Regions from separate parts of the Homo sapiens genome. Here regions 1 and 2 are each linked to region 3. Evidence: fine-mapped expression QTL. A gene starts in region 3. Each other region holds a variant in brackets. All regions are shown on one strand. Distances are between the middles of the regions. Region 1 has its middle 27 kb from the start of LDB1. Region 2 overlaps NOLC1 (nucleolar and coiled-body phosphoprotein 1). Region 3 holds the start of LDB1 (LIM domain binding 1).

Evidence for each region. PIP is the estimated chance that this variant, and not a neighbour inherited with it, causes the effect. A credible set is the group of variants that fine-mapping cannot tell apart.
Region 1: its variant is the best candidate, but not a certain one, in a credible set for the expression of LDB1 in T cells (TOPMed, PIP 0.68).
Region 2: its variant is the best candidate, but not a certain one, in a credible set for the expression of LDB1 in whole blood (Lepik 2017, PIP 0.89).

Annotation. Positions count from the first base shown.
Region 1 is chr10:102,092,343-102,095,098 of GRCh38, reverse strand. No RefSeq gene overlaps it. Among named protein-coding and RNA genes, the nearest start is that of LDB1, 27 kb to the left of the region's middle. The variant G/A (reference allele first, on the strand shown) is at 1,309.
Region 2 is chr10:102,160,245-102,163,000 of GRCh38, reverse strand. NOLC1 (nucleolar and coiled-body phosphoprotein 1) reads right to left here. Exons shown (of 13, transcript NM_004741.5): 9 at 2,658-2,756; 10 at 1,908-2,549; 11 at 1,339-1,445; 12 at 1,076-1,168; 13 at 1-890. The coding sequence ends at 732. Among named protein-coding and RNA genes, the nearest start is that of NOLC1, 9.2 kb to the right of the region's middle. The variant C/T (reference allele first, on the strand shown) is at 1,473.
Region 3 is chr10:102,119,425-102,122,167 of GRCh38, reverse strand. LDB1 (LIM domain binding 1) reads left to right here and starts at 1,800. Exons shown (of 11, transcript NM_001113407.3): 1 at 1,800-2,082. The coding sequence starts at 2,058. It also overlaps a transcript of PPRC1 not described here. RefSeq lists enhancers at 1-410, 411-1,162, 1,163-1,914 and silencers at 1,411-1,540, 1,561-1,860, 1,921-2,000, 2,091-2,160.

The DNA.
Region 1 (2,756 bases), 27 kb after region 3:
CCTGGGCAGCATAGCAAGACTCTGATCCTAAAAATAAATAAATAAATAATTTTTGTATAATTAATTTATGCAAAATAGGTTTTGTTTTGTTTTTTAAAAGGCCCCTCAATAAATAAATGGGAGCCAGGCATGGTGGGTCATGCCTGTCGTCCCAGCCTTTTGAGGGGCTGAGGCAGGCGGATCACGTGAGGTCAGGAGTTCAAGACCAACCTGGCCAATATGATGAAACCCCGTCTCTAGTAAAAATAGAAAAAAATAGCTGGGCATGGTGGTACACACCTGTAATCCCAGCTACTCGGGAGGCTGAGGCAGGAGAATCGCTTGAACCCAGGAGGCAGAGGTTGCGGTGAGCTGAGATCACGTTACTGCACTCCAGCCTGGGCAACAGAGCGAGACTCCATCTCAACAATAACAACAAAAAATACAAAAATTAGCCGGACATGGTGGCAGGCGCTTGTAATCCCAGCTACTTGGGGGCTGAGACTGGAGATCGCTTGAACCCGGGACAGAGGTTGCAGTGAGCTGAGATTGTGCCACTGCACTTCAGCCTGAGCAACGGTGTGAGAATCTGTCTCAAAAACAAAACAAATAAAAATAAAAATGACAGCTGGGCGCAGTGGCTCACCCCTGTAATCCCAGCACTTTGGGAGGCTGAGGTGGGTGGATTACCTGAGGTCAGGAGTTCGAGACCAGCCTGGACAACATGGTGAAACCCCACCTCTACTAAAAATATAAAAACTAGCCGGGCATGGCCGGGCGTGGTGGCTCATGCCTGTAATCCCAGCACTTTGGGAGGCTGAGACGGGCAGATCACGAGGTCAGCAGATCGAGACCATCCTGGCTAACACAGTGAAACCCCGTCTCTACTAAAAATACAAAAAATTAGCCGGGCGTGGTGGTGGGCGCCTGTAGTCCCAGCTACTCGGGAGGCTGACACAGGAGAATGGCGTGAACTGGGGAGGCGGAGCTTGCAGTGAGCCGAGATGGCGCCACTGCACTCCAGCCTGGATAGAGCGAGACTCTGTCTCAAAAAAAGCACTAGCTGGGCATGGTGGTAGGTGCCTGTAATCCCAGCCACTCGGGAGGCTGAGGCACGAGAATTGCTTGAACCCAGGAGATGGAGGTTATAGTGAGCTGACACGGTGCCACTGCACTCCAGCCTCAGTGACAGAGTGAGACTCCATCTCAAAAAAGTAAAATGAAAATGACAATTCAGCTGGGCCAGGCAGCTCACGCCTGTAATCCCAGTACTTTGGGGAGTCTGAGGTGGTAGGATCACTTGAGTCCAGGAGCTGGGGGCCAGCCTGG[G/A]CAACATAATAAGACCCTGTCTCTACAAAAAAATACAACTATTAGACAAGCATGTAGTAATCAGCTACTCTAGAGGCTGAGGTGGGAGGATGCCTTGAGCCCAGGAGGTCAAGGTTGCAGTGAGCCAAGATCAGGCAAATGCACTCCAGCCTGGGCAACAGAGTGAGACCTTGTCAATAAATAAATAGATAAATAAAGTATACAATTCAGCAGCTTTTAGCGTATTCATAATGTTGTGCAACCATCACCACAATTGATTTTAAAACATTTTCATCACTTCCGAAAGAACACCTGTATCCGTTGGCAGTCATTCCACATTTTCCCCACTCTCTCAGCCCTAGGTAATCGTTAATCTATGTCTATAAGACATTTCATATACATGGAATCATACAATATATGACCTTTTGTGACTGGCCTCTATCTCTTAGCATGAGGTTTTCAAGACTCATCCATTTTGTAGCAAGTACCAGTATTTCTTTTCTTTTTTCTTTTTTTTTTTTTTTTTAAGGGGCAAGGTCTCACTATGTTGCCTAGGCTGGACTCAAACTCCTGGCACATGTCACTGCACCTGGCTTAATTTTTTTATTGCTCAATAATATTACATTATATGGATATACTACATTTTAGTTATCCTTTCTTTTTTTTTTTTTTTTTTTTTTTTTTTTTTTTTTTGAGACAGAGTCTTGCTGTCGCCCAGGCTGGAGTGCAGTGGCGCGATCTCGGCTCACTGCAAGCTCCGCCTCCCGGGTTCACGCCATTCTCTTGCCTCAGCCTCCCTAGTAGCTGGGACTACAGGCATCCACCACCACGGCCGGCTAATTTTTTGTATTTTTAGTAGAGACGGGGTTTCACTGTGTTTGCCAGGATGGTCTCGATCTCCTGACCTCGTGATCTGCCCGTCTCAGCCTCCCAAAGTGCTGGGATTACAGGCGTCAGCCACCGTGCCCGGCCCTATAGTTATCCTTTCATCAATTGATGGACATTTGTGTTACTTCCACTTTTTTGCTGTTATGAAATAGGCTGCTAGGTCAGGTGCAGTGGCTAGTGCCTGTAATGCCAGCACTTTGGAAGGCTGAGACAGGCAGATTACTTGAGACCAAGGAGATGGAGGTTGCGGTGAGCCGAGATCACACCATTGCACTCAAGCCTGGGCAACAAGAGTGAAACTCCATCTCAAAAAAAAAAAAAAAATCATACAAAGTGGCTTCAATTCTGTTAAAACTTGTGTGATAGGAAAAGGTGGATGGGTGGTAATAAGAAGATTGGTGGTAACAAGAAGATTGGGCTCTAGGCCGGGCGCGGTGGCTCACACCTGTAATCCCAGCACTTTCGGAGGCCAAGGTGGGCGGATCATGAGGTCAAGAGATCGAGACCATCCTGGCCAACATGGTGAAACCCCGTCTCTACTAAAAACACAAAAATTAGCTGGACGTGGTGGTGCCTGCCTA
Region 2 (2,756 bases), 41 kb before region 3:
CGTATTGCAAACATCGTGTAATGATAAAATTACAGAAAAAAATATATTCAGAATGACCCATGGCATTCACGCCATACCAGAATTTTGCCTGTAACAAAACAGAGAATTTTATCCCAAAAAGTAGGTTAGGTCCATGCTGGCTAAAAACTTCAGTCCCAGACCCAATAAATGAGGATGAAATACATAGTGCATGCTTAACAGACATTGCATATACATCAACAATTCTTTAATGCCCCTCTCTAGGGTTTTGAGGGAAGGAGGGATGAAATGTGGACATGTGCACTCACAAAGGCAGAATTTTCTTCCTATTATAAAAAGTCACACGTGACCCTTTACTATGTTTTGGGCAATAGCCAAGATTTTATCTGTGGGAATCCACCTTTGAAAATCACAACAAAAATCAATAGTAAGTGATTTAATATAAAATATACAAATTTCTCAGTATGAGGACTTTCACAGAAAAGGAAGGAGACAACAATGAAAATGAATTTTCTTAAAAAATAACATTCCCTTATTTTGTCCCTGCTACTCAACACTCAAAAACAAGTCTGTACAAAACTAGGAACACAGAAAAGGACCAGAGAGGATGTTACACTGTAAAGTCTTAGGACCTACTCTAAACTTCTGTCCTCATCAAGACCCTCACCTAGAGACCTGAGGGTTCCCAGGTCCACTGGAGAAAGTAAGTAGTCTCCGATCATCACCCTTGCTTCACCGAAGATGGCCTCAGGTCACTCGCTGTCAAACTTAATAGAATTGACCTGGACAGAGATTGAGCCTCCCCGGTAGCTGCCCCGCTTCTTCTTGGTTTTCTCATGCCGAAAGGACTTGCCTTTGGTGAACTTCAAAACCTGATTGGCTCGCTCTCCCCAGTCTCCGGCTGCACCTCGCTGGTAAGTAGAGAGGGAGATTAACACAGAGGAGGACCATGCTGGAGCCCTGTCACTTTATTCTTTCTACTCCCTGCTCAAGGAAACCTGAACCCAGAGAAGATTCCCACCAACCTGAACCAAGAATTGTCCTCTCTGACACTACCCATCCTCCCTCCCAAGAATGGCACAGATCTCTCTCTCACCTTGGCATCAAAGGAGTTGTCCGCAACTCGTGAATCCACCTCAATTTCCTCCTCCCTGACCCTTCGGAATGGGGATGATGCCCTTTTTTCTCCCTACAGAAGAATGAAGTAGGAAATTAAAGACAGAGTGGTCATGTAACAGTTCTCCTGAGTGATACACATGGGCACATGTACCAGGTCACGCCAGGCAGAGCTGTCAAGATGATCCTAGATTTTTCTACTTTTAAAGAGCTGGCTCCTGAGAAGAAAGTGAGACAACTTACTTTCTTCCTTTTTGGAAATGTGTTAGGGGTCTGAAGCTTTATCTTCTTGGCCTGAGGAGTCTCTGCCTCCTTGGCAGCCTCATTCTGCTTCCGCTTCTTTAATGAACCTACAAAACAAAAAGCCAGACTCAGGC[C/T]GAGTACAGTGGCTCACAACTGTAACCCCAGCATTTTGGGAGTCCAAGGTAGGAGGATCGCTTGAGCCCAGGAAATTCAGATCAGCCTGGGCAATATAGTGAGATTCTGTCTCTATAAAAAGTTAAAAAAATGAGCCAGACATGGTGGTGCATGCTTGTAGTCCCGGCTACTCAGGAGGCTGGGGTGGAAAGATCACCTGAGTCCATGAGGTTAAGGCTGCACAAGCCGTGATCATGCCATTGCACCCTGGTCTGGGTGACACAGTGAGACTCTAATAAAAAAAAAAAAAGGTAACCAGTTTCCTGTTCTTCCTCCCAGTTTCCACAACTGGAAGCCCAGTGGTGGGCCTCCTCTCACTACCCTACTCTCAAAGAGTATATCCCATCCTGATTTGGGGGGACAAAACCCAGAGGGCATGTTCATTGGGTACAGACCTGATTTGGAAACTACCACTGCCGCCTTTTTCTTTTCTTCTTCCTCCTCCTCACTGTTCTTAGCTGCTTTTCCATTCTGGGCAGTCAGTGCAGAGGTGCCATTGGCCTTGGGGGCTTGTGGTCTTGGAGAGCCCTTGCCCTTGAGCTTCTCTTCCTCTTCCTCACTGGAGTCATCAGAAGAAGAACTGTTGCTGCTCTCAGCCTTTCCTTTCTTTGCAGAGGCTGGCTTGGAAGGGGCTGCACCTCCTGCTACCTTCTGTGGCTTCTTCTTAACTGCAGACTTAGATGTCTTCTCTTCCTCCTCCTCACTGCTGGAGCTGTCTGAATCAGAGCTGCTGTCCCTACTACCCTGAGGAGCCTGCTTGGCAGGCAGAGATAGAGCTGCTTTGGCAGTCGCCTTGGGCTTAGTGGTGGCCACCATCTTCTTTGTCTTCTCCTCCTCACTGGAGCTGCTCTCTTCCTCACTGGAGCTGCTGTCAGCCTTTCTCGTCAGAAGCTTCTGGCCACCGCCCACAGGTTGCTTGGGGGCTGCAGCTGGCTTCACTGCAGGTGACTTGGTGGTGACAGCTGGCTTATTTGAAGAATTCTTGGTGGTACCAGCTGGCTTAGAAGGAGCTTCATCATCCTCAGAGCTGTCAGAGTCTAGACACAGAAGGGATGGAATCAACAGCTCCCCAAATTGGATTCAGGGGAGCCCTTAGCAGCTGCCTGAGAGCATCTCACTGAACTGAGGGCCTCCATATGCCTTACCTGAGCTGTCTGAAGAGCTCTCTGCTGCTTTCTTTGCTGGAGGTGGTTTAGTGGTTGCTTTAGAGACTACTGCCTTAGTTGGGGGTTTCTTCTCTTCTT
Region 3 (2,743 bases):
ATGCTGCCAAGGAAATACTTGTGTGAGTGTGGATGGCTTCAGTCAGGTCCTCTCTGCTCCTGGTGGGGGTGGAGATGGGGAAACCTGGGGGTGGGAGACTCCACAGTGTACAAGCTCCCCTATCCCCCATCCTAAGCACATGGTGGGGAGGGTCTCCATTCCTAGGCAGGCCTTCTTTTCAATCCCTGGACTCTGCACCGTTCCATCATTTCATGCTCCCTCAGCAAAAACCTAAGGTGGAGAGAAGAGGTCTCATAAACACTTTAAGCCTCCGCATTTGTAACCCTCCCCCAGCCAGTCAAGCCAGCTGTGCAGACTCTGAGCCAGAGTGAGGGAACCAAACAGCCTTCTCAACCAACACCCCTCTAAGTAACAAAGAGGAGAACCCCCTACCCAGTCAGGGCCAGACGCCCTAGGGAGGAGACACTAGTCCAAGTCTCCATCGTCTATCCCTGGAGCCCATACTGAAACTTAAGAAAGAAAAGCTAGCAGCTGGGGACCCCAGGAGGGAGGGGGTCAACTCTCTACTCCAGGCGGCTCCCCTCCCTTCCCTCCTCCTGGCTAATAGGTATTTCCTGTTTATGAGGCAGCTAAAGCTGAGCTTTTGGGAAGGGATGGAGATGGAGCCCCTCCCCTCCTAGGGCTGGGTTGGGGAGTCCTTGAAGTGTGACTGAAGGTTGGGAGGCTCCTCCCAGGGGAAGGAGTGTTCCTTACATTGACCATCCACATCATCTCCCATCCAACCCCCCACGGCCCACAGCCTCTGCCTCTCTGGGTTAGGGGGCACTGGAGGGGCCTGTTTCCTGTTCTCATCTCCGAAGCCCTCAAAGGACAGCAGCTTCCAGGCAGGGGGGTCGGAGGCGGTGGGGTTGGGCGGTTGGTACGGAGGTGAAGGCACCAAGGCTGGAGAAAGGGGGGAAGGGAAGAGAGTGTCTTGACTGATGCGTCAGTCTGCAAGAAGGAAGGATGGCCTCCTATCGCCCCTCCGTAATCCAATCTGGTGGTCATTCCGCAGCCCCCTCCCCCCAGCAAAACACAGATCCCAAGCCCTTAGGCGGAGGAGGGCGGGGACCCCACTTAATTAACCCTTTTAGTTCTAGTCCCAACTGGTTTCGCAGGCAAAGGAGGAGTGGTTAATTTAGGGAAGGGGTGAGTTGAGGGGTTGCTACAAGAATTAAGAGAATGCTTCTTTACCCATCCAGCCTAGGGTAGGGACGCGAAACAAGGGGCCTCCAGAAGAAGGCTGGCGTCTCAGCAGGGAGCACGGACAGGGGGTCTGCAGTCCCTTTTCCCTCCCGGAGCGCGGCCCGGGGTGGAGAGAGATACACCACACTGCCCACCCCGGCTCCGCCTCCCCCAGCCGCGGCTCCCGCTCCGGCTCAGCCAGACTCCCCATCCGGCGGCACCCGGAGGACGGACACCGAGCGCGCGGCTGCGCCTCCAAGCCCTCCCCTTCGCCCTCCCTCTCTGGGGTCTCTGCCTCCGTCTCCTTTTTTAAAAGCTGCGTCACATGCATGCCGTTCCCCGAGCGCTCCCAGCCCCTCGCCGCCCGCCCGCCGCGCGGCGCACGCACGTCGTCGCTTGCTGCGCGCTCTCCCGGGTCACTTTGACACGGCTCTCCCCTCCCACTAGCAGGACAATTAGCATATTAATAAAGCCCGGCCCTGCCCGGCTTGGGCTGGGGAGCCGGCGCCGGCGCGAGGGAGCGCGAGCGCGAGGGCGGAGAGGGGGGCGCTCGGCGACGGCGGCGGGAGCGCACAGACACGCACACGCACACGCGCACACACGCACACACGGACACACACTCCGCGGACTCACACCCGCGCGCACACACGCAGAGGCCGCTCGCCTTCCTGCCTGGCTTCCTTCCTGTCTGCTCCGCGCCTGACAGGCCCCTCGCCGCAGCCAGGGGCCGCCCGCACCGGGCCGAGGCCGGGCCGGGCCGGCGGCGAGCGCAGCGGGGGCCGCGGGCGGCGGCGGCGGCTCATGCCCGGCCTGTCCCCGCGAGGGGCGGGCACCGTGACTCGGCTGGGCCCCCAGAGGCGGGCGATGTGAAGATGTCAGTGGGCTGTGCCTGTCCTGGTGAGTGGGGCGTGCGGCCACTCGGCCCCTTCCTGCCCAGCCGTCCCTGCGGACCCCTCACCCCGTGTTTGGCGAGAACTTGTGTGGGGGGCGTCGATGGCATGGGGGAAGCCGGGGGCTGGAAGGGCTACGCGGGGCCTCAGGCTGGCGGGTAGCGTTTTCCCCAACTGTGTAAATGCGCAGCAGCCCAGAAACACGGGGAGGAGACGCTGGGGGTGGCTTATGTGTATGTTTTTTTGGGGGTAGGCTAATTGGGGAGAGGTTTGGGGGGGGCTGAAATTCTCAGAATTCCAGGTTGTTAGCCAATCAGAAGTGACTCTGGACTTTTGACCCCCCCCCTCAGGTCACCATAGAGTTGTGATTGGCTGGTTTGGGCTGCCCCCCCTTCCCTGCTGCCCATTGCCTCTTACCTATCCTGTGACATCCCCCCCATGCTGTTTCTGAGGACCCTGTTTGCAGGGAGGTATTGATTGCGGCCCATCTTGCCCCCCACCTTCAACTTTTCCTGCCTGTTGCCAGGGAAGGTTGGCCCTCCTGAGGCACCGGAGGTACTCCTAAGAGGTGCCAGATAATTGGACCCTTGGGTCTGGCATCTCCGCCCTAGTGGGAGGGCAGGCTAGGAAATAGAGTGATTTGTGGAGAGGTAAGCTGGGGGAGCAAT